Homo sapiens: one gene and its partners. The protein of the gene in region 3 interacts with the protein of the main gene of each other region in a pairwise test. Each region holds a gene or a part of one and is shown on either strand. Other genes may lie near its edges. The genes, in order: IRAK1BP1, RXRB, TFCP2, PLCB1, ESR2, NPEPL1 and PPP3R2.

Region 1 (4,274 bases), on a different chromosome or scaffold from region 3:
TATCTTCTGACCTCAAAGAATGAGCTAGGAAATATTTCTTCCTTTTCAGTTTTCTGGAAAAATTTGTATAGAATTGGCATGATTTCTTCCTTATACACTTTCTAGTTTCCTTTTCAATTTCTTCTTTGACACATGGGTTACTGAAAAGTATGTTTTAAAATTCAGCATATTTGGGGGATTTTCCTGAGGCCCTTCTATTACTGGTTTTTAATTTAATTACACTGTGGTCAGTGAACTTTGTATGATTCAAATACTTTTTTTTTTTTTTTGAGATGGAGTCTTGCTCAGTTGCCCAGGCTGGAGTGCAATGCAATGGCACGATCTCGGCTCACTGCAACCTCTACCTCCCGGGTTCAAGCGATTCTCCTGTCTTAGCCTGCTGAGTAGCTGGGATTACAGGTGTGCACCACCATGCCCAGCTAATTTTTGTATTTTTGTAGAGACGGGGTTTCACCATGTTGGCCAGGCTGGTCTTGAACTCCTGACCTCAGGTGATCTGCCCGCCTCAGCTTCCTAAAGTGCTGGGATTACAGGTGTGAGCCACTGCGCCCGGCCAAATACTTTTATATGACACAGAATATGGTCTACCTTGGCAAATGTTCAATGTGCACTTGAAAGGAATGTGTAGGCTGCTGTTTTTGGAGTGTTCTATATATGTCAAGTAGGTCAAATTGGTTGACAGTGTGATTCAAATCTGTTATATTCTTACTGATTTTCTGTCTATGGTCTTATCAACTACTGAAAAGGGGGGTATTGAAATCTACAAAAGTTGTAGACTTATTTATTTTTCCTTGTAGTTATATCATTTTTCCCTTAAGTATTTTGAAGCTTTATTATATGTATAAATATTTAGTGCTGTATGTCCTCTTGATTAATTGACTTTTATCATTATGAAATGACTGTCTTTATCTTTCATAGTCTTTGCTCTGAAATCTACTTTGATTACTATAGCCACTCCAGCTTTCTTTTCATTTACGTTAGCATGACATATCTTTCTCCATCCCATTACTTTTAACCAACATATGTCTTCATATTTAAAGTACACTTCTCTCAGGCAGCATGTAAGTGGAGTTAACTTAAAATATCTGTATTTTAATGAAGGTATGTGGACCATTTACATTTAACGTGATTATTGACATGGGTAAATTTAAACCTGTGGTCTTGTTATTTCCCCTTTACTCATTTTCTGTTTTCTTTTTGATATTTTTATTATATTATTTCATAGCTTTCATTGACTTATTAGCCGTAACTCCATTATTTTAGTGTTTGCTTTAGGATTTACAGAATACATATTTAAGTTATTACAATCTACCATCAAGAGCTAGCATATCATTTCACATATAAGAAGTTTATAACACTGTACTTCTGTTCTTCCCTTCTTGACCTTTGTGCTATTGTTGTTATATAATTTATTTTTACATATGTTATAATCCCTGTAGTTCATCATTATCATTTATTTAGTCAGTTATCTTTTTTTTTGAGACAGAGTCTTGCTCTGTCGCCCAGGCTGGAGTACAGTGACGTGATCTCAGCTCACTGCAACCTCCGCCTCCTGAGTTCAAGCGATTCTCCTGCCTCAGCCTCCTGAGTAGCTGGGACTACAGGCGTGACCACCATGCCTGGCTGATTTCTGCATTTTTTAGTAGAGACAGGGTTTCGCCATGTTGGCCAGGCTGGTTTTGAACTGACGTCAGGTGATCCACCCACCTCGGCCTCCCAAAGTGCTGGGATTACAGGTGTGAGCCACTGCACCCAGCCTAGTCAGTTATCTTTTATATAAATATAGAGATTTCTAAAGAGATTTATATTAAGAAAAACCCACGTAGTTACCATTTTCAGTACTCTTCAGTCCTTTGTATAAATTCCTATTTCTTTCTGGCATCATTCTTTTCTGCTTAAATGATGTCATTTAAATTTCTCATAGTGTAGGTCTACAGGTAATGAATTATTTCAGCTTACTGGAAAGGTCTTTAATTGGTCTTTGTTTTTCAGCACTACTTTTGCTGGATATATTAATAGAAACTCTTCGTTGATATATATATATATATATATATATATATATATATACACACACACACACACACACACATATATACACACATATATATACACCTTTTAGTTTTAAAGATGTGGCACAACTGTCTCCTTGCTTGCATTGCTTTCAACAAGAAATCTGTTGTCTTACCTTTGTTCCTTTGTAGATAATATGTCTTTTTTCTCCTCCTCTGGCTGTTTTAAGATTTATCACTGGTTTTGAGCAATGTGATTATAATGTGTACTGGTGCATTTTTTTTTTCAATTTCTTGTGCTTAGGGTTAGTTGAACTTTTTGACTCCATGGGTTTATAATTCTCATAAAGTTTGGATATTTTTGGGTCATAATTTTTCCAAGTATTTTTCTTGTCCCCCACTTTCCTCTGCATTGGGACCTCAATTATATGTATAATAGGCTATTTGATGTTGTCCTACATTTTATTAACTCGTTTTTACATCTTTCTTTTCTGTGTTTCATTATGGATACTTTTTATTGCTACATTTTCAGGTTCACTAAGCACGTCTTGTGTAAGGTCTAATTTGCTGTTAATCCTATTCAGTGTATTTATTATCTCATACACTGTAGTTTTCATCTTTGGAAATTCAATTTGTTTTTTGTTTTTAATATCTTGCACATCCCTCCTTAACTTTTGAGCATGTGAACTACAGCCAAAATAACTTTTAATGACTATGTCTTTTAATTCTAACATCTGTGTCACTCCTGAGTTGGTTTGGAATTGATTTTTCTCCTTATTATGAGCTTTACTTCTCTGCTATTTTATAGACTAGAAATACAGGTAAACCGAATTAAGATAAAATTTCATATAAATAAATGTAAAATCCCACAGTTCATACTGAAATAGCAGTAACAAAGTATAAGATGAAAAAAATATGATTTAAAGGTAGCACATGAGAAAGACACTTTTATTGTTTATAATTATTATGACTATAAGCTGAATTGAGGGAACAATATGATGCAAATGCCAAAAAGTTAATTCAGTCTTGCATGTGTTATTAGAAATAAATATTCTAGAATAAGGGAGATAATCAACTTTCTCTAGTTTGGACTGGCCAAATCATAAGTAGAACAATATAGCTATAGATGGTTTTGAATGAAACTGGCTAACTAAAGAAAGAGTTTGTTACATAAGAAATGGCCAAACAGGGTTCTTACCCTGGAAAAGAAAAAAAAAGTAGCATCAATATGAAAATGAACTTCAAGTATATATTTTAAGGAAGAAGTATTTACCTTGTTTTGTTTCTTCTTACAGAGGTACACTAATAGATGGCTACTAGTGAGTCAATTTTGGCTTAATGTTCAAAGATTCTCTATTGATCAGATGTCTGAAAACGGAATGAGTCTTATATATTCATGCCTATATATGTATAAAATATTTCACAATAAAAATAAATAAAAAAGATTGGATGGAATAATATATGGAAAATGCTTAACACATAGCAGGCATGCAAGGAAAAGGAGAGGGAAAGAAGGGGGAGAAAACTATATGAGTAGTTATACTACTACTTTTGCTTCCTGATACACAGTATTGAATACCTATTATACCCCAGGATTAAAAAATTCCTCTAGGCTGGGCACGGTGGCTCACGCCTGTAATCCCAACACTTTGGGAGGCAGAGGCAGGCGGATCGCCTGAGGCCAGGAGTTCGAGACCAGCCCGGCCAACATGGTGAAAACCCGGTTCTACTAAAATTACAAAAATTAGCCAGGTGTGGTGGCAGGAGCCTGTAATCCCAGCTACTCAGGAGGCTGAGGCAGGAGAATCGCTTGAACCTGGGAGACGGAGGTTGCAGTGAGCCAAGATCACGCCATTGCACTCCAGCCTGGGTGACAAGAGTGAGACTTCGTCTCAAAAAAAAAAAAAAATTCCTCTAAACACTAAGGTTATAACATGAAAATAACATAAAAAGTGGAAAGAGTACTGGTATAGGAATCACAAAGCTAGGATTTTAATCCAACCCTCCTTCCCACATCCATTCATTCACCTACCATTAAAGTCATCACTTAGAACCTTTTTTTAAAATTAAATCAACAGTCAGTGTTTGTACTATTATGATTGTTTACAGCTGAACAATATAGTGTACTATGATTGCATTTCTTTTCTTCTAGTCTTCATTGAATTCCTGGGAGTTAATAATCAGTTCATTTTTATTTGTTTGCTTTCTTAGTTGTACATGTCCTTCAAACCCTCTGACAAAAGCTATAAAATTCAAATAAATAGG
Region 2 (3,063 bases), on a different chromosome or scaffold from region 3:
GGAGGTGGGAGAAGGGGATTGAGAGCTGGAAGCACACGGGCCCTGAACACATCCTCATAGCACTCCCCACCCCCAAGGGAGCCTCAGTGCCCCCCAGCCCCATCTCACCGTCCCTGCTGCTCAGGGTACTTCTGTTTGCAGTAGGTCTCCAGTGATGCATACACTTTCTCCCGCAGGACCTCCACCTCACTAGGGTTGGAGAGGCCCTTGGCATCTGGGATGGCAGGGAAGAGAGGAGGAAGAGAAATGAAGACAAACCAAATCAGGATGGCCATGCAGATGTGAGCCACAGGATGCCCCTTTTGGGCTGCACTTGCTTGCCCTTTACCAGAGGCCTGGCAAGGGAAGCAGGGCCCACTGGGTTTGTGGGATGGATCCGTGGATGTGGGTTTTTCCTCGGCCAGTTGGGAGATTTCCAGGTTGAGGGTCTTACTGAGGGGGATAGCTGGGTAACTTAGGAGTCTCGGAGAAGAGGAGGCTCCAAGGTTGCCTTGGCCTTGAGAGACAAAGGTAATCCTCCTCTTACCTGGATTAAACAGAATGATTGCCCTCAGGCAGCCAAGCTCTGTCTTGTCCATCCTCATGTCACGCATTTTGGACACTAGCTCTGTCAGCACCCTGGAGAGGGACCTGCAGGTCACTCAAAGGTCACAGCTCAGCCAGCCTTGGACACGGACCAGCCTATAGCCCCACCCCCTCTATCTACATGCCAGCCTAGCCGAGGGCCACTGACCGATCAAAGATGGCTCCTACTCCTGCTGAATGGGCTGAGTTGCGGTGCACGTGAAGACCTGTGGCAAGGAGGATGCCATCTCGAACATCAATGGATCGGTGTGAGAAGGAGGCAATGAGGAGTTCATTCCAGCCTGGGTGGGGCAGCAAGGGTCAGGAGCCAGAAATCAGGCCAAGGGATTCAAAGCACATCAGTGGAAGAGAAGGAGAAAAGAGGTGGCGAGGTCAGCAAGTTTGGCTCCCTGGGTACGCAAGGTAAGGCCACTGGGGTCACTAAAGATCGGGAAGTCAAAGAGGGGTCAAATGTCAAGAAGTCAAAGGGATCCAAGGTCACTGACCTGCCCGCAGCAATATGACCTGATCATCCAGAGGCAAGGAGGAAAAGTGTGGGATCCTCTTCGCCCACTCAACAAGCGTGAATAGCTGTTTGTCAGCTGCCTGACAGATGTTAGTCACAGGGTCATTTGGCTGCAGGGGACGGGGGTAAGAGTTATGGAAGATTTTGAGATATGCTGGGAGCCCCCTTGTAAGAGGCTTTTGACACCCCCTCCTTACATATAGTCTTCCTGTGAGCCCCATCCAAACCAATCCCTGTAAGTGAGTCTTCTCTTCTGGCATTAGTGCAAACAATTATTTATTTGGGACATGCCTATGGTTCTGCCAGTGGGTTGTTTGGGGAGTGGAGACAGAAGGAGCTATCACATCCACCTCAGATGTTTGAAAGACCTTGTTTGGCAGCACCTCCAGTCCCAAGTAGTGTTAGGAAGGTTATGAGGGGAAAGGAGGGGGAGGGGATGTAGAACAGACCTAGACTGCCTCCCCCAACCCCCATCACGAAGGAGAGTGGATTGACCCCAACACTCACGCTGCTGCCGCTACCCCCGGTTCCCCCAGGACCCTCAACGCCCTGGTCACTCTTCTGTTCCACAGCAAGCTCTGCCTCCAGGATCCTGTCCACAGGCATCTCCTCGGGGGCTCCCCCAGCCCCCTCCCCATCCCCATCCTTGTCCTTTCCCCGCTGACGCTCCTCCTGTACCGCTGCAGGGGGAAGGGGGAGAGAAAAAATGGAAAGTCAGCAGCCAGCCATGAAGGGGTTCCACAAATATCCTTACGGCCTCATCAGGATCTCATGGCCCTTGGGAGATATTTATAGGAATTGGGGAAGTCACTAGAAAGGGTGGACTGGGGGCAGCCCTGAAGGAAGGGTTATAAAAGGGCAGGTAAGTCAGTCGGGAAGGGTGAGGTAGGTAAAAGAATTAGGGAGGAATTTAAATGGAGAGCCTACTACATGGTTAAAAAAAACATGCCAAGATTCAACCTGAGAAAGCTGATTGAAAAAAAAAATTTTTTTAAATAAAATATGCCAAGAAACATGCTAAGCACATTTTACCATTCACTCAATTATCATAATGATGCTGGAAGCATTTATTCTCATTTTTAAGATGAAGAACTCGGGGTTCAAAGAGATTAGTTTGCTTAAATTCATATAATACATGGCAGGTCATACAACTGACTCTAAGTGTGTCTGAGTGCAAATCTTGTGCTCTTCTGACTCAACAAATAGGCAGTGAAAGGAGCACTGGCCTAGGTCTTTGAAGATGTGGGTTCTGATCCCAAACCTGCCTGCCACTCCTTTGTTGCATGACCTTGGGAAAGCCAAGCCTCAGGCTCATCTTCTCTAAAGTGGGTGTTTTGACCAAGATATGCTCTAAAGTGTCTCTCAGAATCCTAGGAATCTGACTTAAGAAGATAAGATGGAGACACAGAAGAAGGAAGGGAAGCCCTGAGGTCTTCAGTAAAGTCTGTAAGCTTAAGAGTGCCCAGTCCCAGGAGTTAGAGGAAAGATCACAGATAACAGGAGACAGAGACCAGAGAAGGTCCATGGAATCAGAGGAGGAACCACTCAGGTTAGAAATGGGGAGACAGCCCATCATGGCTAAGGAAAAGTTATCCTATCCTAGGATCAGTCTAGGGAGGGGTCATATGTGCAGGCCACAGAGGCCTAACCATTAAGAAGGAAACTCAAGGGCCAGAACAGGGTAACAGGGAGGAGAGCTGCGAAGGGAGAGAGAAATCAAATATCGCCCTCTAGAGGAGAGAGAGCAGTCCACCCTTCCAGAGAGGTACACAGTCTGAGTGGGATAAGGGAGAAGGGCATGTGGTCTAAGACGCCTGGGCAGGGCGGGTCCTTACCCTCCCTCTTCATGCCAGTGGCCAGGCACTTCTGATAGCGGCAGTACTGACAGCGGTTCCGCTGGCGCTTGTCCACTGTGCAGTCTTTGTTGTCCCGGCAAGAGTATGTAAGGTCTTTGCGGATGGTGCGTTTGAAGA
Region 3 (4,264 bases):
AAAAAACTAAGCAGATTGGAAGAGTTGTTTTAAAGCCTGGTATGCATTTCCCTGGGTTAACCCCAAGACTCTCCAAGGAGCACACGGACACAAATATGTGCATACAGGAGAACTGACTTCCGTGTCTTCAACTCCCATATGTGCTCTTTCCTAAAACCTCTTTAATTTTCCTTCCCCACTTTCCCTTCTCAAACTCCCTTCTCCCAGGGATAAACTCCCTTCTCCCAAGATAAAGGCATGAGTTTCACCCTCCCAGGATCCTAATAAGGTGGCCCATGATGTGAAAGCTTCAGGTGGCAAAGTGGAATGGCGAAGGTGAACGCTAATAACTGAGCAATAGACCCTTTTATGAGCCACATGGTTTCTAACTCTTTCCTTTCACCAGAATTAAAGAGTAACCTAATCACAAATTGTCGTAAGACAGAGGATTCAAAATGATTTTTTGGTAATATCACTATGTAATTTCTGGTATATAATTCTGAAGTATAATCTAATGACATTGTCATTACAAAATTCCATCCATTCCTATCAATTTATGGGAATCAAGTCCCTCAGCATTTATATCTAGAGGAAAAAAACAGAATGGAATTGATGCTGAAATCCTGTGTCATTCTAGCAATCAATAGGCAGTATTCAGCTACAAAGGAAATAATTATGTGCAAGGGTACAGGTAGGGAACGAAACAATTTCATCGAACTCATTCATAGATATACCTGTAATAATTTTTTCTTAATTTTTTTTTTTTTTTCTGAGACAGAGTTTTGCTCTTGTTGCCCAGGCTGGAGCGCAATGCCCCCATCTCGGCTCACGCAACCTCCGCCTCCTGGGTTCAAGGGATTCTCCTGCCTCAGCCTCCTGAGTAGGTGGGATTATAGGCACGTGCCACCACACCCGGCTAATTTTGTATTTTAGTAGAGACAGGGTTTCTCTATGTTGGTCAAACTCCTGACCTCAGGTGATCTGCTTGCCTCGGCCTCCCAAAGTGCTGGGATTACAGGTGTGAGCCACTGTGCCTGGCCTTCTTTTTTTCTTTTTTTGGATGAAGTCTCGCTCTGTCGCCTAGGCTGGAGTGCGGTGGCGCAATCTTGGCTCACCGCAACCTCTGCCTCTCGGGTTCAAGCAGTTCTCTGCCTCAGCCTCCCAAGTAGCTGGGATTATAGGCACCTGCCATCATGCCCAGCTAATTTTTGTATTTTTAGTAGAGATGGGGTTTCACCATCTTGGACACGATGGTCTTGAACTTCTGACCTTGTGATCCACCCGTCTCAGCCTCCCAAAGTGCTGGGTTTACAGGCATGAGCCATTGCGCCTGGGCAGCCTTCTTAATCTTTAATAATTACTTATTAAAACATGTAGCATATTTACATTATTTTAATCAATTGTATAATTATGATAATTCCATTATAATAATTTTTAAATTTTTATTTAAAAACTTTATTTCAAACAAATATAGTAGGATAATCAATAAAAGATGTTTGTGCATAAAAATATGTTATGGTAAGATGGCCAGGCGTGGTGGTTCACATCTGTAATCCCAGCACTTCGGGAGGCTGAGGCGGGTTGATCACTTGAGGCCAGGAGTTCGAGACCAGACTGGCCACATGGTGAAACCCAGCCTCTACTAAAAATACAAAAATTAGCCAGGCATGGTGGTGGGTGCCTGTAATACCAGCTACTTGGGAGGCTGAGGCAGGAGAATTGCTTGAACCTAGGAGGCGGGGTTGCAGTGAGCCGAGATCACACCACCGCACAACAGCCTGGGCGACAGAGTGAGACTCTGTCTCAAAAAAAAAAAGTTACAGTAAGATAAAATTCACCGGGGGAAGTAAATGAAAATAAGAGTTCAAGGAAACAGAGGAATAGTATAAGAATTCTAACTGTTAAAGAAAAGCACAATCATGTATTTTTTTTTAATGGATGGTGGTGGTATTAAATCATTTTTGTATTAAGGTTACATGGGATGCAATTAGAATAATGATGTAACCATTTCACTTAAAAATGTCATTATATATGCCCAGAAATGACATCTTTTACAACTATTTAAACTTTAACAAAAAATTTTAAGTCAACCTAAAAATGTGCATGGGAATATGTGGTTTTTAAAATATTTTAGGACCAGGCGCAGTGGCTCACATCTGGAATCCCACCACTTTGGGAGGCCGAGGCGGGTGGATCACTTGAGGCCAGGAGTTTGAGACCAACCTGGCCAACATGGCAAAACCCCATCTCTACTAAAAATACAAAAATTAGCCAGGCGTGGTGGCGCACGCCTGTAATTCCCACTATTCGGGAAGCTGAGACAGGAGAATCACTTGAATCCAGGAGGAGGAGGTCGCAGTGACCTGAGATTGGGCCACTGCACTCCGGCCTGGGCAACAGAGAGAGACTGTTTCAAAAAAAAAAAAAATTAGGAGGAAAGCAAGCAAAAAAGTATGAAACCCTCTGATCTAGAAAACAGAACACTCTGCCCCAGGAGAACTGCTCTTGCTCCATGCGCTGACAAATTAATCATCATCTGGTAATTCAACTGTACTGAAAAATCTACCTCATCACTGATGAGCACATGAATTCCTGTTGGCCCCTGCTTGTAAATCTGGCTGATCTGGCAAGGGGAAATGCTGAAAAGCTGAGCAATTTTTTCTGTCAATTCAACAGCTGTTAGTTCTTCTAGATAGATAGCATGGTAAACTGCAAAAGGGAGAGAGCAACAGCAGTCAGTACAAAGTTTGTCCACTCTTACAGGTAACTTGATCACTAGGAATGCCCACTTTTCTGAAGGACTCAGAAATCACACTGCCTAAGTTCAAATCCTGGCTCAACCACTTGCAGCTGTGTGACCTAGGGCAAGTTATTTAACATTCCTAGGCCTGATTTTTCTTGCATAAATACCGGAGATAACAGTAAAATCCTCCGCAAAGAGGAGATATTAGTTGTAAATATTAAAGCATATAAAAAGTGTTAAGAATAGTACCTGGCTGGGTGTAGTGGTTTACACCTATAGTCCCAGCAATTTGGGAGGCTGAGGCAGGGAGATCGCTTGAGCCCAGGAGTTCAAGACCAGCCTGGGCAACATAGGGAGATCCCATCTCTACAATAAATAAAACAATTAGGCAAATGAGTAGCTTTAGTTCTAGCTACTCGGTAGGCTGAGGGGAGAGAATCACTTGAGCCCAGGTGGTCAAGGCTGCAATGAGTCATGATTGTGCCACTGTACTTCAGCCTGGGTAACTGAGTGAGACTCTGTCTCAAAAAAAAAAAAAAAGAATGGCACCTGCCATGTATTAGGAACTTAATAAATGCTAGTGATTATTGTTACTTCTAGCAAATACTAAATCTGCTGTTTGATAGTTTCCCATCACACATGCCCATAAGTTATCTCTTCACCTTTCTTCATATCTGTCCTAGTGTGTCCAGAACAACCTACCGAAGAAAGTACCATTTGAGTCTCCATCCTCATGCTTCTGCTGCTGTTGCTGCTGCTGTTGTTGCTGCTCCCTCAACTGCAGTGATTCCTGACAAACATAAATGGTTAACCTTGGACGCACCATCCTAAGGGGAGGAAAAAGGCTAATTAGTCTTACATTCTTTATGGTAAGCACAATAAAAAGAAGGGAGAAATTGTGTTTCTACATTAATCGTATAGAGCAGATGAAAATTGGAAGCTCATTGGCCAAATGCAATTAATTTGCTATGTTTTATTAGTTCCCCAGTAGTAGGGTTTTTTTTTTCCTTAAGTGGAATTAGTTCCAATATGAGACATCATATAAACCTCTGAACTTTTGGCTTTTCCTGAAGACTCAGATCTAGCAATCTTAGGCCTGCATTCTCACATGAAAACAATCAGCCGTTCTTCTTACATGATGCATATATTCTTCACTATACCCCAGTCTTGACTGCCATTCACTTACATTACCTGTATGTACTCTATAGTCATTTGAGTTTGTGGCCTTTGGTGTAAAAGTTAGAAATAGTCAAAATATAAAAGCCACCGTCTAATGGGTCAGGTTCAAGATATACTTTTTACTAAAAAATGCCAACACAGTAAACTAGATCATCTTATTTCTCTCATTACCTTCTCCTAACTAGCCTAAGTCCTTTCTCTGTTCTTCTTAGAGAAAGGTATTCAACTACCTCTTGATCTGATCATCTTACTCCTTCCAATTTCTAAACACCCTTTAGATAATATGCTTGAAAAAATGAAAGATCAATTATTTTTCCACAAGTCATCAACCCCTGATTTCACTTCCTTCCTTAAAATTTTCCA
Region 4 (4,274 bases), on a different chromosome or scaffold from region 3:
TGAATTTTCTTTATCTCAGCCACTATATTATTCCCTACTTCCACTCTACTTCTTTGAGTTATAATTAAAATGTATCATTTATCATTTGTACTATCAGATGATATGAGTTAAATGTATATGTTTTTATGGCCGTCCATTTGAGGCATACTAGAATGAATTGATTTACAATACAATTCTGAAAATCCAAACCAGTGATTAACAGAATTCTTGAAGGGTTTTCAGAATGGCTTTCAAAAGGTAATTGCTTTATAAGTGTGTAAATTTTCAAATTAAATAACAAATAATTCACCATTTCATTATTTTCTCAGTGTAAAACACCTGAAAAATGCAGTTATAACTCATATCAAGAACATGTGACCAACCTTTTTGAACACAATAGGTTCTTCTTCCCAGACAGGATTCACAGCATTTCCTTGGGATGTTTTGGTCTTAAATGCCTTCCTCCTTGTATCCACAGGCAAACCAAACATATCTACTTCCACGTAAGTCCCAACTTTCTTATCAGAAAGAAACTGACCTGAAATAATCTAGAAAATCAATAAATCAATCAATCCATAAGGAATTTTGATATGCAAATAACAAAGACATAAGAGAATACTTTAAAGAGCCACAAATGCTCTTCAGCAAATGTTGAATTATAAGCAAAATGGAATAGAAGCAAGAGTAGAAATATGATTTCCCTTTCACTTAATGGGTTATGATATGGTTTGGTTCTATGTCCTCACCCAAATCTCATGTTGAATTGTAATCCTCACATATTTGGGGAGGGTGATTGGATTATGGGAGTGGTTTCTCTCATGCTGTTCTCATGATAGTGAGTTCTCACAAGATCTGATGGTTTAATAAGTGTGTGGCAGTTCCCCCCTCACTCTCTCTCTTCTCCCTTCATGTGAGGTGTGCTTTGCTTCCCCTTCACTTTCCACCATAATTGTAAGTTTCATGAGGCCTCCTCAGCCATGCAGAACTGTGAGTCAATTAAACCTCTTTTCTTTATAAATTGCTCAGTTTCAGGTAGTTCTTTATAGCAGTGTGAAAATGGACAAACACAGGTTGGTAGAAGGATATTGAAAATGGTGAGGTTAGAAGTAGTCAATTAATAAGACACAGTATTGTAGGAGGAATAAATGAACAAGTATTCACTTTAAACCATCAAGATAAGTTTATCATTACCCCTAATCTCACAAGGTGTCACCATCTTTGTCTAGCTACAGAACTAATGGATATTATAGACTTAAAAGAGATTTTTAATATTACGTATTTATAAATGTCTTCCATGTCTGCCTCTGTTTCTATGCAAATTTTCAAAATCTGAACTATCCACCAGCTGTCATAAAGGTTAGCGGAGGCAAACAAGATGTGCTTCTGCTGTATACCAGGAAGGGGAAAGCAGGAAGCAAGTGCTGACAGAGCAAACCTGGTGAATCTGGGTTATGTGGTTACAAGAAAATTGCCTGCTGGTCAAGAACTTTCTGAGCTCCAGATTGTGAAAAGGGGACAGCATTATGGCTGGGCTCACAATCTGAGCTCAAGATTGTGAAAGGGGACAGAATTATGGCTGGGCCAGAAATCAGACAAAATGGTGGCATGAGAATAGCTATCAAAGGCTGAGTAAAGTCAAAGTCAGCTATATGCTGATGTTGTCAGAAATTCTGAGTAATTCAGAGAGAAAGTCATCAGGAAGGCTCTCTGAATTTGCCCTGGGACAACTCATTTCCCCTGTATGTTCTATTTGGCTTGAGTGCATGGGACCTGCTAGCAACAATCTCTTTGTTTAACTTGAGGTTCTATGTGAGAACTATGTCTATGAAATAAGCAAGCATTTCAAAACATGTTTGAAACTTCTAAGTTATGCAAGTCCTACTTGGAATTCAGATGCACAGAAGATGTTGTATGTTTAAGATGTTTGACCAAAGCAGAGTCCTAAACTAAATTCATGACACCAAAACCACAATGCTCTCGTCAGTAACATAGGACGGTAGAACATCATGTGAGCTCACAAGTCCATTCTGGCATTATAAAATCTATGCCAGAAGATGAAAACAAAGGCATAATTGGAAAGTTATGATCTGTATCTTGGCTCTAGCTATAATGTCAAAGGTAGGACTCTACTGCAGTGAGAACTGTCCATTCAGGGGAGACTGACAGCTCTGGAGCAGCGTCTCCATTCTGGACAGGAGCAGCAGGTTACACTTGTCTGGGGATCAACTATTTCCCCTTCACAACTCAATGTACTTTCCTGCCTCTGTGTCATTGTTTTATAATTGCTTACTGTCACAGTAGGATTTTCAAGACAAAAAAAGAAATAAGCAAACAAATACATTCAAAACAAGACGAATCTGCAAGCAAAGCAAAAATATTATTAATTCAACCGAACTATAACAACAATTGACAAGGATTCTAAAAGTAGCATTCTATCAGTACATGGAGCTTATGAGTTTATCTTTATCACACCTGACAGGAATTAAACAGCCTTTTCTGAAAATACTTTCCTAAAATAAACTCTAATTCTGCCAACTTGAACTCTTTATACATGTGGCTTGAAGTAATTTCAAAAGATATAATTATGAGACACTTCACTGAAATTTTATTCTTTAAACCCTTGATATAAAGTGACGAAAGTTTTAAGGTAAAAATGTGCTCAACTGCTTAGGGTAGAAAGAAATTAGTGAAGCTGTTATAGAAAGCTTTTTACATAGTTTTTCAAATGCCTTTGTTTAAGGTTAATCAAAAAATTACATTTATGTCCAGTAAAAAAATTTCTTAGTTCTATAGTTATTCAGTTAAACAGAAAACAGACAATATTTTTGAAAAGCTTTAACGATGAAGAATCCATGTAAAATGTATTCTAAAAAATTGATTTTCCTTTCATAGTATTAAAAATATTTTCTGGTAGCTAAAAAATTATATCTGATATAAAATCAATTTCAAAGACTAAAAAAATTTAGAATTGTTTAGGGTCAGATATACATATGTATGTGTATATATCTATGATTTTTATATATTTATGACATACATGTATATATACATATATATTTAATAAAGCAACTCTTTTATTTAATGATCATTAATATGTGTTTTAAAATCTCTGAATACTCTGGAAGATTTTCAAAAACCATTTAAAGTAATTTGAAAGCTTTTGTTTAACATTTGATAATTTATTGAGGGAATGTTCTGTCTCTAATTTTCTAAGAACCAAACGGGGAAAAAAAGACCGGAAAATCTCTCCAATATGGGCCACTAATTATCATGTAAATTTCATAGTAGGTTAGTTACACCAAAAAAGAGGTTTGCTTATGATGAGTCTCTCCAACTCATTTTATTGATTTAGAGTCAGATTTTTATCATTAAGAATAAAGTTCAGTCGCTTTATCTTATTCATGTGGCCTATGAAAACTTTTTTTTTTTTTTTTTTTTTTTTTGAGACAGAGTCTCGCTCTCTCGCTCTGTCGCCCAGGCTGGAGTGCAGTGGCGCGATCTGGGCTCTCTGCAAGCTCCACCTCCCAGGTTCACGCCATTCTCCTGTCTCAGCCTCTTGAGTAGCTGGCACTACAGGCGCCCGCCACCACGCCCGGCTAATTGTTTTTTTTTGTATTTTTTAGTAGAGACGGGGTTTCACCGTGTTAGCCAGGATGGTCTCGATCTCCTGACCTCGTGATCCACCTGCCTCGGCCTCCCAAAGTGCTGGGATTACAGGCGTGAGTCACTGCGCCCGACCCTACCAAAACTTTTATTATTATTATTATTATTATTATTATTATTATTATTATTATACTTTAAGTTTTAGGGTACATGCGCACAATGTGCAGGTTAGTTACATATGTATACATGTGCCATGCTGGTGTGCTGCACCCATTAACTCGTCATTTAGCATTAGGTGTATCTCCTAATGCTATCCCTCCCCGCTCCCCCCACCCCACAACAGTCCCCAGAGTGTGATGTTCCCCTTCCCGTGTGCATTCATAGATGGGAATTGAACAATGAGAACACACGGACCCCTTACGAAAACTTTTAATGTGTATTTGATCTTTAGAGAAAAAAAATGTAGGAAGAAAGTAGAATCTTTCCTAGTTACTAAATTTTTAATGACTAAGCCACTTCTTTATGCAATGTAGATAAATTCAACACTATTGTTAGGAACAATTTTGTGATGGGGTATACCTACCTTAACAGACAAAGTGTTTGCCACTATCCCATCTACGATGCCTTCAGTAAATGGATCAAAATGCTTGTCAGGCCTCCTCATGAACTCTGGCTTCAATCTGTAGCCACTCTTC
Region 5 (4,274 bases), on a different chromosome or scaffold from region 3:
CCTTCCTCTGTGCTCCATAACCCAGTAGAGAAACAACAGCACTTATCACTCTGATGGCAACTCATTGTGTGAAGAAGCCAACAAAGTATCAATGGAAAAGCAAGCACAACACAGCTTCCAGTGCATTTGTACAGTGAAGGGGACAGGTACATGACTAAGATATGGTCAATTAGCTTATAAATCAAGTTAGCAAGACAAGTTTAAAATTATAAAAAACATAAGAATGGGCCAGGTGCGGTGGCTCACACCTGTAATCCCAGCACTTTGGGAGGCCGAGGCGGGCGGATCACAAGGTCAGGAGATCGAGACCATCCTGGCTAACATGCCGAAACCCTGTCTCTACTAAAAATACAAAAAATTAGCAGGGTGTGGTGGCCAGCTCCTGTAATCCCAGCTACTTGGGAGTCTGAGGCAGGAGAATGGTGTGAATCTGGGAGGCAGAGCTTGCAGTGAGCCGAGATTGTGCCACTGCACTCCAGCCTGGGTGACAGAATGAGACTCCATCTCCAAAAAAAAAAAAAAAAAAAAAAAAGTTACATGCAAGGAATTTCTCAATACTGTACCATCCTGGCCTATTTGAGACAATTTTAAAAATAAGTGGCCACTTTCAGTTACTGTAATGCACTTATATCAAAGACAGGAAGCATGCAAAGAAAGGATCATTTAGGCACTACAACTGTACAACTGTAACAGCTTTAACTCTTTCCTCTTTGCACATTTAGAATTTGACATTCCTGTCTGATGCAGCAGGAAGGAAGAAACAACATAGAGAAGCAAAGGAAATTTACTTTCAATTGTTATTAGCTGTAGTCTCAGGGGTCAAAGATGTTTCAAGCAGACCAATGTTTCCCCAAAAGCAAAAAAAAAAAAGAAGGATCTCTTTTTAAAAGATATGGTTAGTAGTAATAGGTCCAAACGTTCTTAAGGGGTAAAATCCTAGAAACTCAGCAAGATACAAAATAGTCATCGTATCAAGAATTCAGTTCAGAATTTCAGAAAATCAATATTGTTCTTATCATATAGCCAGGAAATGGACTTGGCCTTATAATCTACTGTTAAGATTGTCACAAATAAAATATTTGAGCACTGAATATGTTTTCATATAATCAACCTTATTTCATCTTTAGAAAATCCCTATGAGTATCTCCATTTCACAGAGGAGGAAACAGGCTAGGAGGTGAAGTCGCAGAGCTAGTAATTATAAAATCCAGGACAAAGAGGCTGCCATTCATACAGGGTGAATTTCAGGGGACAGGTAGGAAGGTGACTACCAACATTTCACTCCTCACCATATCCTGGATTCTATCAGTATTTCTCTGCTTAAGGTAAAACATCCTCTTAGAGTTATCAATGGGTGAGTTAATTTAGTAAATTGCTATTTGCCATTTACACACTATGAATTCTCTCAACGTTGCTTTTCTTAACTGGCAAAGAACAAAGCATTGGGGCTTTGATAGAAAAAGGAAGGGAGCTTTCAGATGGAAACATAGGGTGTTGCCTGGGAGGGAGCAGTTGAGGGACAGGTTATGGGGCAAATAGAGAAAACAAGAGTAAGCAAGAAAGTGACTTCAGCAAATCAGGGCTGGTACGAGAGAAGGAGTGTAGCAAAGACACATGCAGGGAGATGAGCTGACCAGCCTTGAAATCAGGGGTGCACAACTTGAAGTTTATAAACCAAAAAATAAAATTCTAAGGCCCCTCAACCATCTGAATGGGTCCCTCCTCTTGGCCAAGGGCATTACAAAGTTAACCTGAAAAATAAGTTTAGGCCATGATGGAACAAGGGAGACAGACATGGTTCATTATACCCTCCCTCCCCTTTTGGAATCACTGATAGAACAGACCCTTTAAGACCCCTAAGAAATATTTACAATCTATTCTCTCTGAAGCCTGCTACCTGGAGGCTTCATCTGCATGATAAAACCTTGGTCTCCACAATCCCTTATTGTAACCCAATCATTGCTTCCTACTGATAATAATTCTTTCAATCAATTGCCAATCAGAAAATCTTTGAACTGCCTGTGACTTGGAAGCCCCTGCTTTCAGGTGTCCTGCCTTTTCAGGCTGAATCAATGTACATCTTACATGCATTGATTAATGCCTTATGTCTCCCTAAAATGTATAAGACCAAGTTGTGGCCTGACCACCTTGGGCACATGTTCTCAGATCTCCTGAGGGCTATGTCACAGGCCATTTGTCACTCATATTTGGCTCAGAATAAATCTCTTCAAATATTTTACAGAGTTTGATTCTTTTCATCAACAAGTTGATTTAAAAAAAAAAATCCAGAAGGCGTTTAGAGAAAGTTAGGGAAATAATCTAAACACAGCCCAGAAAACAAGGGGATTGTGAACTGAGACCCTCCTAGCCTAGGGGAAGAAATGTGTCTAGATCAATTCTCAAAGTCCACTGTAGCTGAATTCCTGATTTCTGACCATTTCCAAAAAATGTGTTTATTCTTTCTTCCTCAGGAGCCAGCCCACCATCATGACTGTTAAGCATGCTATATATTAAATTTAAGTAAAAGAAAGAAACAATCTTTGCAACTCCTTGTGAGCACATTTTTTCCAAGAGACATCTTCACAAGGTTGTAACTCGATGTCTTCTATCCAACACCCATGTGGGTGAACGAGGGGTAAGACCCATTCGAGTTGGCTGTATAATCTTGGGGTTCTGGGGTAGAAATCTGCAATTCCACCCCACCACCCAACCCACTTCCAAACACACATGATCCTCTGAACTGCTCATCAAATACTTTGTGTGCCAAACAGGCCAGTAGTGACATTTCTGCCAAGTCATCTCTGCAAAATTGTTTGAAATCAAAAGTAGGAAACTAAAGAAGCAGTTAACAATTCTCTTGTACCTTGAATGCTTCTTTTAAAAAAGGCCTTACATCCTTCACACGACCAGACTCCATAGTGATATCCCGATGCGTAATCGCTGCAGACAGCGCAGAAGTGAGCATCCCTCTTTGAACCTGGACCAGTAACAGGGCTGGCGCAACGGTTCCCACTAACCTTCCTTTTCAGTGTCTCTCTAGGGAGCAAAGAAAATATCCATTGAACAGAGCATAAAAGGGAAAGGAAGGGCTTTCTAGGAAAAAAAAATAGCATGAACATTGCCTAATTTAATCTCTTTTTCCTCCAGGGTTCCTGGTAAATATATTCCCGGAAATCTGATACAGCAAAGCTTTTGATACTGATATCATATCTACAAAGAGCCACGCTGTGGGGAATGACTAATGTTTGAAAGTGGGTAGGTGAGTTTATGCCCATCCACGTGATGCTGATGAGCATTTGTCACTGCCGAAGACCAGTCATAGCCATGGGGTGGGAGCTACATCTCTAAGTGTAATGAAAGGAGTGGCCAGATCAAATCTTACCCACAGGTCTGAACCACAGGCAGGATATGCATTGGTCTTCTGTAGTTACTAGAGTTCACGAATGCTGCATGGATGGGTGTGAAGGCATTCAACCACTTCCAAACATCAGTCATTCCCAACAGCATTGCTAAGCAGCCCTTCAGACATTTGAAGTTCCCATTTAAATGGAGAACAAACATCTCACACTCTGCAATTTCAGATAAAGGTCTAGATTTAAAATAACTTTCAGGTTGGGCGCAATGGTTCATGCCTGTAATCCTAGCACATTGGGGAGCCAAGGTGGGCGTATCACCTGAGGCCAGAAGTTCGAGACCAGCTTGGCCAACAAGGTGAAACCCTATCTCTACTAAAAATACAAAAATTAGCCAGACATGGTGGTGCACACCTGTAATCCCAGCTACTTTGGAGGATGAAGCAGGAGATTGCTTGAACCCGGGAGGCAGAGGTTGCAGTGAGCCAAGACTGTGCCACTGCACTCCAGCCTGGGCAACAGAGTGAGACTCCATCTCAAAAAAATAAAATAAAAATAACTTTAAGAGGAATAACAAATGGACTTTAAGTTACCTTGAGATGAATGTGAGACAAGAAAAAGGGGGAAGAGAAGAGAAAGGGAGAGAGAAAAAAGAAGAGAGAAGAGAAGAGAGAGAACAAGCAAGTGCCTGGCCTGGAAAGGCTTGGAAGGAAGCAGAGGCTCAATGCTGGACCACAGGCAAGAGGTTCATAAAGGAACGAAAAGTCTAACAAGGGATCCCCAGGCAGCCTCCAAAACACATCTGGCTAGTTCCTGATGTTGCCAGGCATGGTTCTTTTGGAAAGGGAATGGTAAAGGTATTATTGATTTATAAATGAAGGTAATTATATAATGGATTAATTTGCCCAAAAATTAGCAGAA
Region 6 (4,274 bases), on a different chromosome or scaffold from region 3:
TCCCGGGCTGCCACGCCGCCTGGGGGTCTGTCTGCAGGGCCACTCTCTCCACTCCTCCGCACAGCGTGAGAAGGAAGCTGAGGTCCAGGGAGCCTCTGGGGCTTGCTGGAGGTCCCTGGCCAGCACCTCAGGGACCTGGGTGGGCTTGCGTGCTTCCTGCACCCATTGCAGATTCCTAGTGTGCTTATGGCAGGGAGGAAGCCTGAGGGGCTGCTGCCGCAATGCAAACCTGCCCTGGCCACCTGTCGCCCCCCAGAACAGGGCCTAGCTTCCTCTCCCTGGCACTTAGAGGGCTTTACCACCTAACGAGACTTAGGCTCAGCATTCTCTGCCCCTCATCACAACCTTGAATGATGGTGAGGGTTGATGTGAACTCTTCGCCAAAATCAGTCACATCCACCCCCACTGACACCACCAGCAGTGAGGACACCTGTCGCTCCTTCATGTCACTGCCAGGTCTATCGCCAGAAGAAGGGGCCACCTCTGCCCTCCTGCTAGTTCACACCTCCTGGTTAATAGTTCACACCTCCTGGTTAACCTGGGTCTAAAGAGGGGCCACCCTTCTCCTGCAGTGTCCACACTGTTTCCTATACGCTGGTTGACAGTGTTACACATTTTTACATTTTACAGGTTCCCAAATCAAATTCACAAGTTCATATTTTAAATTAACAGCAGGTCCTCAGAGGTAAAGGTTTGGGTATGAAATTTACTGAATCATTTTTGAACCCTTATCTTATTACACAAGCTTTGAATTTTAGTGCAAAGTATTTTTAGATGTAAATTGAGCTGCTTTTATAATTGAGTGAAAATGACCCATCTTGTACTACTGAAAATAAGCCATCTCTTCTGAGCTAATCTGTTTGAGAAAGCACAGGATTGTTTAAATGGAAAAACAGGGCCTCCGATCTGGAATCAAACCATGTGCAAAATGGGTCACACAGCAATGCCTGGAAACGGCTGCTCACTGTACACCATGTCTCCCCCGTCACAGCTGCCAGCTCCTTCCCAATTGCAGGTGGAGCCAGGACTGGGCTTGCAAATACAGCTCAACTGATTGATTGTGCAAAGTTTCACCAGCCCCCATATGTTGTTTCTGTTTTTATAGAAGAAACCATTTTCGCAGTGATTTAAGACGGTCTCTGCCTTTTTCACGGGGCTGACACTTACACCCCCTGTGCTGGAGTATCAGGCCACAGTCCCAAAGAGGTCCGGGAGCCACTGTATTCGTTTCCGTGCCCTCTGGGAAAATGAACCAATGCCAATTTCACGTTAGAATTTCCTTGCTGAAGCAGTAAAATTAATTTTTAAAACTCTCAACCCTTGGGTACAATACATTTTCCATATTCCGTGTGACTCATAATGTACTCCTGCTGTTGCTGACGGGCAGTGGTCGGTCAGAGCAGAAGCTCAGCTGTGATTGCTGGGGGAGTTCTGAGCTCCATGAGCCACTCTGGCCACGACACCATCTTTACTTGAAAGAAAAACTGACAGACAAATGGCATTTAATTGGATTTAGGTATCTGGCAGATATTTCCCAGAAAAGGAACAAACTGAGCCTCTTACTTCCAGAAACAGCTGACATTATTTATTGCCAATGGTATACATTTGAGCTTTTAAGCAAAAATCAGAATTTTGAAAAACTTTCTCCTATCACCATGACAACTTCCTCATAATGAGTTTTCTGATGAGATGGATGGTGATATTAAGTGATTTTTTGATACTATATAATGTAATGTGTCAAAAATTTGAATTTCTGCAGAACTCTGTGAACCAACATTTTTCAAGTGAACATTCATTTTTCCATGAAAAACCACATGTTCAAAGTGAGAGAGAACAGCGGATTTAACTGCCACAGAGCCCAAAAGTCTATTCATGAGGCTTCAGATTCCATGTTATAACCAGCCTTTAAGAAGCTACCACTTGTTGAGTTTTGGTGTAGTAGCAAAGAATGTTCATAGTTAGTTAGCTGAAAAAGGTACTAAAATCCTTTTCCCTGTTTCAACTATAAAATGCGTGAGGCCAGATTTTCTTGATACAGTTCAACTGAAACAACACATTTCCATAGACTACATCGGAAGCAGACGCAAGGTCCCTAGCTGTCTTCTATTAAGCCAGACACTGACAGGATTTGTGAAAATGTACAACAATGCTACTCTCTCAGTAAATTATTTTTTCATTTTGGAAGATGCTTATCTTCATAAAATTATTTATGATAACATGCAATGGATTTATATGTTATTTTTAATGAATTATACATGTTATAAATTTCTCACTTTTAATTTCCAGTAGAGTAAATATCAATAGACATTGTTATACAAAAAGCCTCTTTGGGGTCGGTACTTGTTAAGAGCGTAAAGGGGTCTCCAGTAATGCATTTGAGGCCTGCTAGTCCAGGCTGGTCTTGAGCTGCCCTTGAAATCTTTGAAAATGGAGCTGTGATTTTTTTTTTCTTGCAAAACTGGGAGCTGGGCTGGCTCCAGCCGGCTTGCTTTTTGAGGAGTGACCATTTCTGCACCATTTGCTCTACAGGCAGCCACTGGGGAGAATGCCTGCTGCGTTGCGTCTGCGTTTCACACCAGGCCGTTGGGGAGAGATTGTGAGCGCCTTCAGGTCAGGATTGGGGTCTTTGCATCAATGGCTGGAGCCTCAGCGCCCACTCCACACAGTAACAGCTCAGGAAAGGCCTGCTGGTTGATCCCAAATCCACGTAGAACGGTTCCAACTGCAGCGGGGAAGATGGGCTGGTTTAAAATAAAAAACCAGGTATTGTTTCACTGGTGCCAGAACACCCAGCTCTTCCTGGTATTATGGGGTCTGCAGACCAGGTGGACCCCGGGAATAGGCAGGGGCTATAGTCGCATTTTCAGAAGGTGATCTGGAGCCATGGAAAATGCCCTACTCTCTGGCAGTTCTACCAGCCACCCTCAGACCACAGCTTCCCTGAAGGCTGTGCAGCTGTGGCCTCTAGGGAAGGCCTGTGTGGTCAGGTTTTTCCTTTGTGTTAATTTCCAGGCCGGGAGCTGACTAACTGCACAGGTCTACCCACAGCCACATGAGATGAAGTCAGGTGCAACGATATTTTCCCTAAGTGACTAGAGTTAGTGCCACAAGCAAACGAATGAATTCCCAGGAAGCTCATCTTCTCACATTGGTCCACAACAAGCCGACATCAAAAACAAGCATCTGATCCAAGGAGAAGAGGGTCCACGACTCTACCAGCCAGAATGTAGCGGCTTCCAGGGTGACCGTGGGTATTGAGGGTGCGTGCGAGGGTGGGAGCAGCCAGTACCAGGTGCAGGCAGTAGGGGGTGCACTATCTGTGGCGAATTTAGGAATCATAACCGACTAGAAGTCAGTTTGCTTATTACCACCGTGTGCCGGTATCTCTGAACAAAGTCAGCAATAACATATTCCTCCTCCGAAAATCTGTTGTTGATTGAAGTTTAAAAAATTGCTGTGGCTACGGTTGCGTTTTAATCACACAAACAAAAGCTTCAAATTCGCATATCGTTGTTACTTATCCTGAAAGTAACATTACATGGACGTTAGCAATGACCCGACACAAAATCTACTACCCACATTCCTTCTGAGAATCGCTCTGACAGTCAGATCCTGTGGGCTGGCTCTGGGCACAGTCGGGGCCTCCAGGGCCCATGATTTCCTACCTCCCGGTGTCGAAACAGAGGACCCAAAATAAAACACGAGAGTGCGGGATGGTCAAAACGAAGACGCGGAACCTGCGTTCCTTCACTTCCCTCATTCCATGTGAACACTTGGAGTTACTGTGTCCAAAATGCTTTTGTTCTGCAGACATCTGAAAGCCACAAGAATCCACCCTGAAGAACTGAACACACAGTGGGTGTTGTGATTGCTGGAATTTACTGTGAAATGGGATTTTTAAGAATCTCTGCCAAATGATACCGTATTAAAGACTTTTCCTAAGTATCTGTGTATCTGTTGCCTCACGAGATTGGAGCTCTTCAAAATCAAAGTTAACAGATAGTATTCTTGGACCAACTATGAGTGAAGACAGCTGGCAACTCTGCCTACTGAACATACATTAGTAAAGAAGATCAATTTAAATGAAACCATTGTCAAACGTGTAGATGCTAAGACCCAAAGCCAGAAACAAACATTCATTCCACCATCTATTACCCCAAGAGACCCATAGGGAGGCATGTTTTTTCTATTAAAAAAAAACAAAAAACCCTTTTTATGATTAGTGTCATTTTCTGCTTAGTTCTAAACAGTTTTGTGGTTTAGAGGAGGGATGG
Region 7 (4,191 bases), on a different chromosome or scaffold from region 3:
AAGGAGTGGTGAGGACCTTGAAATTGTTCCCATTGTTTTCTCTCTGGGCTTGGACATGGGCTGTACACTAATGTCCAGTTAATTTTAGAGTGGGTGTAGCTAAGAACTAAGTAAGTGTTCAAAAGCAACCAGTAAGCCTCATGTCTCCTTTACATATTGATCTTGTAGAAGGGGAAGAAGGGGGAAGGGAAGGGAATTAGTTGAATGAAAGTGGAATTGTGCTCCAGGTGTGTTGCATGCCTTTTTGAATCCTCAAAATAACCCTGGGGTGGATCCTCTTTAATTAGGTGGAAAGACACAGAGAGGCTAAGTAAATTATTCATGCTCACACAGCTAAAAAGAAGTGAGTGTGATAACAACCCAGTTGCAACTGAATCCAAACCCAGGTGTGTCTGAATCTTTGAACATTACATAACCCTGATCACCACAGGGTTGGGAGCGTTTATCACAGTTTTTAGGGTTGAACAGGAATTGAAGGGGTAAGGATTCCTATTTTTGTGGTTTCTAAGTAATCTATTAAATACAAAAGTATATGGTAGGGTACCTTGATAGATGGGTTCCCTACAAGTGATTAAATTTGTGGACTTTTTTTTTTTTTTTCTATTTTGGTCAAGACCAGTTGCCAGCTTCTTCCAAATAAAATAGCAGTAAATCTCCTTGAAACAGATCTTCCATGTCCTGAAAAAAGTTACCTGAGTGGTATCTCTTGGCTAAGCAAGTGTAGGGAGAGTATGTTTCATTGTTCTGCTGTTTTGAGAGCCTTAAGCATCTTATATGGGAAGTGGTTCTCTGTGAGAAAGAGGATTGGTATGGAGGCACAGATGCTGGGACAAGTCCTAGCCCTGCTCTTCTGAGGACAGTTCATGCTCTGAGAACTCACAATAGTATGTGGGACACCTCAGGGAGCTGGTAACATTTGGGGTACAGGCAGTGATGTATTTACTGGTAAACAAATTCTCCAAAACAAAACAAAAACAACTAAAAGCTTTTGTTCTTTTCTCACCATGGCTGATCTAAAGCTACCAACATGACATAAATGCGTGGGAAGAGACACATGCATTCTGGATCTCCCCTGGAACCACAGGCTCCGGCTCACCCAATGGTGGAGATCTGTTAGTGTGTGAGGACTTCTGCACTGAATGTTCCACTAGGGAAAAGGCTTCCTGGAATGAGAGAGCTCTCAGTTTCTCTTCTAGGCCTCAGATCTGATTTTCAAAATCAGCATAGCTGGTGTAGCTAGCATCCACCTCTGCTGTGGAGACACAATTGTCAGTCTCTGCATCTGTGAGCAACAGACATAATGCCACTTTGGCATCCTAGGGAGATTCCACTGCAGCCTGACTCTACTGCCTCTCCTCCGTAGGACAACTAACTAAATGTCTCATTGTCTCCACCTGGGGGTAGGGACCAGTGTCGGAGGTGAGAGCACTTTCTGGGAGAACACTTTGCTTGCCCTATTTAGCTGGAGGTCCCCTTCATTGAAATTAATGCTGGTGTGGGCTGCCAACCCTGGAAACCCACTGCTAATGAGGATGATGGCTGAGCTGGGCACTTAGTCCAGGCTTAGCATTTCCTATAAGAGCCCTGAAGCTAGTTTCTGTTCAGGAGCTGGAGCAACAAGTCAGGAGGAGGCCAAATGAACTCCTACCCCTCAAACATGCACAGCGATTTCTGGATGCATTGTGGGGAATGGGGCTGCAATCTGCCGAAGGAAAAGATGGGATTCTGTCCCCTAAGAAAAGTGATTACGAGATGCCCAGCAAAGACAAATATATTTGTCCCTGTTGCTACAATAGGAAGTTAACAATCTGGCAAGATATCTGAACACAAGCAAATGAAAACAGTTCACCTAACACCCATGCAAATTATAAATTTCCTCCCATATACAAAATGATGAGAAATAACAGCAAAAATGTATACTTTCTTATTTTTGAACTTTTAAAGTTCTAGTTTGGTCTTTGAATCAAAACAAAGTAAAAGATGTTTATAAAAGCCATTTCCTTTTCTTTCCCCACTATGCTCATTTGACTTGCTCTTCCCCCTATAGGGTACCCTGAGTCATTCAGAGAAGGAGAATTAATAGCACTGAGTTGGTGATGAAGCTCCTGTTAGGACATATGGCTTCACAAAAAGAAATACTTCCAGATAAGTCAGAGAGACAGTTGGACGTCTTGAGCAAATCTTGAAAGAGATAGGGAAGAAAGCAGAAGTTGTTGGGTGGTGCTTGTAAGAAAAAGGCTCATACGATGAGGACCAGCTTCTTGTGGATCTCCAGGTCTCTGACCACAGCACTGAATTCCTCAAAGGATATCTTCCCATCGCCATCCTTGTCCAGGATGATGATGGTTTTGTCGACCAGCTGCTGGAGCTGCCAGTCCGTCAGGTTGTTGCCCACCATCATCTTCAGCACCTGGAAGAGCTCCCCGTTGGAAATGTAGCCATCTTTATCCATGTCGTAAATGCTGAACGCAAACCTCAACTTCTGCTCCTCGTCGCCCTTGACGCTGAACTGGGAGGTCCCCAGGATGAATTCCTTGAAGTCCACTTCTCCATCACCGTCGGTGTCGAAGACGTCGATCACTCGCCGCACCAACGGGTTGTGGCGCAGCTCCGGCAGGGACATGAACTCCTCCACGCTCAGAGACCCTGATTTGTCCAAGTCCAACTTCTTAAACCTCCTGCCCAGCCTTTTAATTTCATCATTGTCAAAGTGGGAGCACATCTCCGCCGGGTAACTGGCCTCGTTTCCCATTGTGGACATCTGGCAACGGCCACGGCTCAAAGGGTCGGAGAGGGGAGCAGGGGCGGTGAGCTCGGGCGGGGCTCGTGCCCGGACGGTTGGGCCATGGGGTGGGGGTAGAGGGCTCCCGGGGGCCCTGGTCGAGCAAAAGGGCAGGGGAGCGGAGGGAGGGGCGGCAGGTCAGAGAGGGAGCGGAGAGAGGAGGGAAAGAAGGAGGGAAAAGGGGGCGGAAGGGGAGGTGGGTGCTGTCTGGGCAGGAGTATAGGGAGGAGAGAATGGAGCCTGGGGGTGCCCGGGAGAGGCAGAGGTGGAAAGCTGGGCTGCCCCTTCTCTTTTTCCTTCTCTCAAACTCCTTGTACCTTTCCATGATAACCCCAATTTCCCTGGCAATTATTTTATCTACTTATTTCTTTTTTTTTTTTCTCTGAGAAAGTAAACCCCAAAGGAGAAGGGATCGCACCTGTGTTATTCGCTGCAGTATCCCAGAAGCACAGTGCTTCACAGGCAATATGTGCTTAATAAATATACGCCGAATGACTGAACTGCAACCAAGGACACTGTATACTTGCTTTACAGACCTAGTGTAAGGATGAAACAAGGTGACACATCAAGGCATTGATATAGTATGTTTTCCACGATTCCCTGGGAGGGGAAGCCGGGATTGACATCCTTCTGTACCTTTTTCAGGACGTAGGATTCAGAGTGTTTGTAAGAGACCAGGCAGATACCGCGCAGAATTTCTTACATGGATCACCTACAGGCACTAACATATTCCCGAGGAATATAAACAATGCTGAATTCAGGGCGTTTTTCAAGATGACACAGGTCTCAAGAACACAACCTCTGTTACTCTGTTCCCTCTTATCCATCATCTCATGCCCGAGTCACATCTTTGTTGTTGGTGCCTGGCGGCTATTCTGCAGAATACCTTGGGGGAAGGTCTGCAATGTGCCCAAAGAAGCCTTTTGTGTGTGTTGAGAGTGACAGTCGCCTCTGGATGATCTCACTTTTCTCCTTTTGTTTCAACTAGATTTGTTCTTTCTGTTGAAGACTAATCTCACATGCTCCCTCTTATTCCTTCTTCCTTTCGGAGCGCATCAATTACTCCAAATGCATAAGAAACAAATGTGGTTCAAGAGCAAACAGTTCAAAGGGACTTGGGGGAACCTCAGGCCACTACATCAAACTGAAAGATGCAAACACTCCTTCGCTTTAAAAAATGTTGGCAAGTTCTGTGTTCTATAGTTCAGCCAAAATATCAGTCTAAAGATAACCATGCTGGAACTAGCAAAACTAAGCCACTGATCACCTTATCATTAAGTCTGGCCATTTTACTTTCCTCTATAAACAAATGATAATCCATGGATATGTTTTAAAGCTGATTATGGGCATTACACAAATGAAACCCCCTTTCCCAATTAGACTGTTATATTGGAATGTTTTTTTGTTTC

The links.
Region 1: the proteins of TFCP2 (region 3) and IRAK1BP1 interact in binary tests that used the Homo sapiens proteins (3 or more experiments, as listed by UniProt).
Region 2: the proteins of TFCP2 (region 3) and RXRB interact in binary tests that used the Homo sapiens proteins (3 or more experiments, as listed by UniProt).
Region 4: the proteins of TFCP2 (region 3) and PLCB1 interact in binary tests that used the Homo sapiens proteins (3 or more experiments, as listed by UniProt).
Region 5: the proteins of TFCP2 (region 3) and ESR2 interact in binary tests that used the Homo sapiens proteins (3 or more experiments, as listed by UniProt).
Region 6: the proteins of TFCP2 (region 3) and NPEPL1 interact in binary tests that used the Homo sapiens proteins (3 or more experiments, as listed by UniProt).
Region 7: the proteins of TFCP2 (region 3) and PPP3R2 interact in binary tests that used the Homo sapiens proteins (3 or more experiments, as listed by UniProt).

What each region holds. Positions count from the first base shown.
Region 1 is NC_000006.12:78,891,108-78,895,381, reverse strand, and holds part of IRAK1BP1 (interleukin-1 receptor-associated kinase 1-binding protein 1), read right to left. Parts: intron 1-4,274. UniProt on the Homo sapiens protein: Component of the IRAK1-dependent TNFRSF1A signaling pathway that leads to NF-kappa-B activation and is required for cell survival. Acts by enhancing RELA transcriptional activity.
Region 2 is NC_000006.12:33,194,837-33,197,899, forward strand, and holds part of RXRB (retinoic acid receptor RXR-beta), read right to left. Parts: coding exon 2,926-3,063; intron 1,771-2,925; coding exon 1,598-1,770; intron 1,201-1,597; coding exon 1,071-1,200; intron 867-1,070; coding exon 734-866; intron 631-733; coding exon of another isoform or gene 619-630; coding exon 527-618; intron 215-526; coding exon 109-214; intron 1-108. UniProt on the Homo sapiens protein: Receptor for retinoic acid. Retinoic acid receptors bind as heterodimers to their target response elements in response to their ligands, all-trans or 9-cis retinoic acid, and regulate gene expression in various biological processes.
Region 3 is NC_000012.12:51,096,231-51,100,494, forward strand, and holds part of TFCP2 (alpha-globin transcription factor CP2), read right to left. Parts: intron 3,550-4,264; coding exon 3,425-3,549; intron 2,689-3,424; coding exon 2,546-2,688; intron 1-2,545.
Region 4 is NC_000020.11:8,733,281-8,737,554, reverse strand, and holds part of PLCB1 (1-phosphatidylinositol 4,5-bisphosphate phosphodiesterase beta-1), read right to left. Parts: coding exon 4,163-4,274; intron 528-4,162; coding exon 363-527; intron 1-362.
Region 5 is NC_000014.9:64,277,118-64,281,391, forward strand, and holds part of ESR2 (estrogen receptor beta), read right to left. Parts: intron 3,037-4,274; coding exon 2,864-3,036; intron 1-2,863.
Region 6 is NC_000020.11:58,702,463-58,706,736, reverse strand, and holds part of NPEPL1 (probable aminopeptidase NPEPL1), read right to left. Parts: intron 1,240-4,274; exon of another isoform or gene 1,168-1,239; intron 1-1,167. UniProt on the Homo sapiens protein: Probably catalyzes the removal of unsubstituted N-terminal amino acids from various peptides.
Region 7 is NC_000009.12:101,592,170-101,596,360, forward strand, and holds the start of PPP3R2 (calcineurin subunit B type 2), read right to left. Parts: upstream 2,801-4,191; 5' UTR 2,753-2,800; coding exon 2,240-2,752; 3' UTR 1-2,239. UniProt on the Homo sapiens protein: Regulatory subunit of calcineurin, a calcium-dependent, calmodulin stimulated protein phosphatase. Confers calcium sensitivity.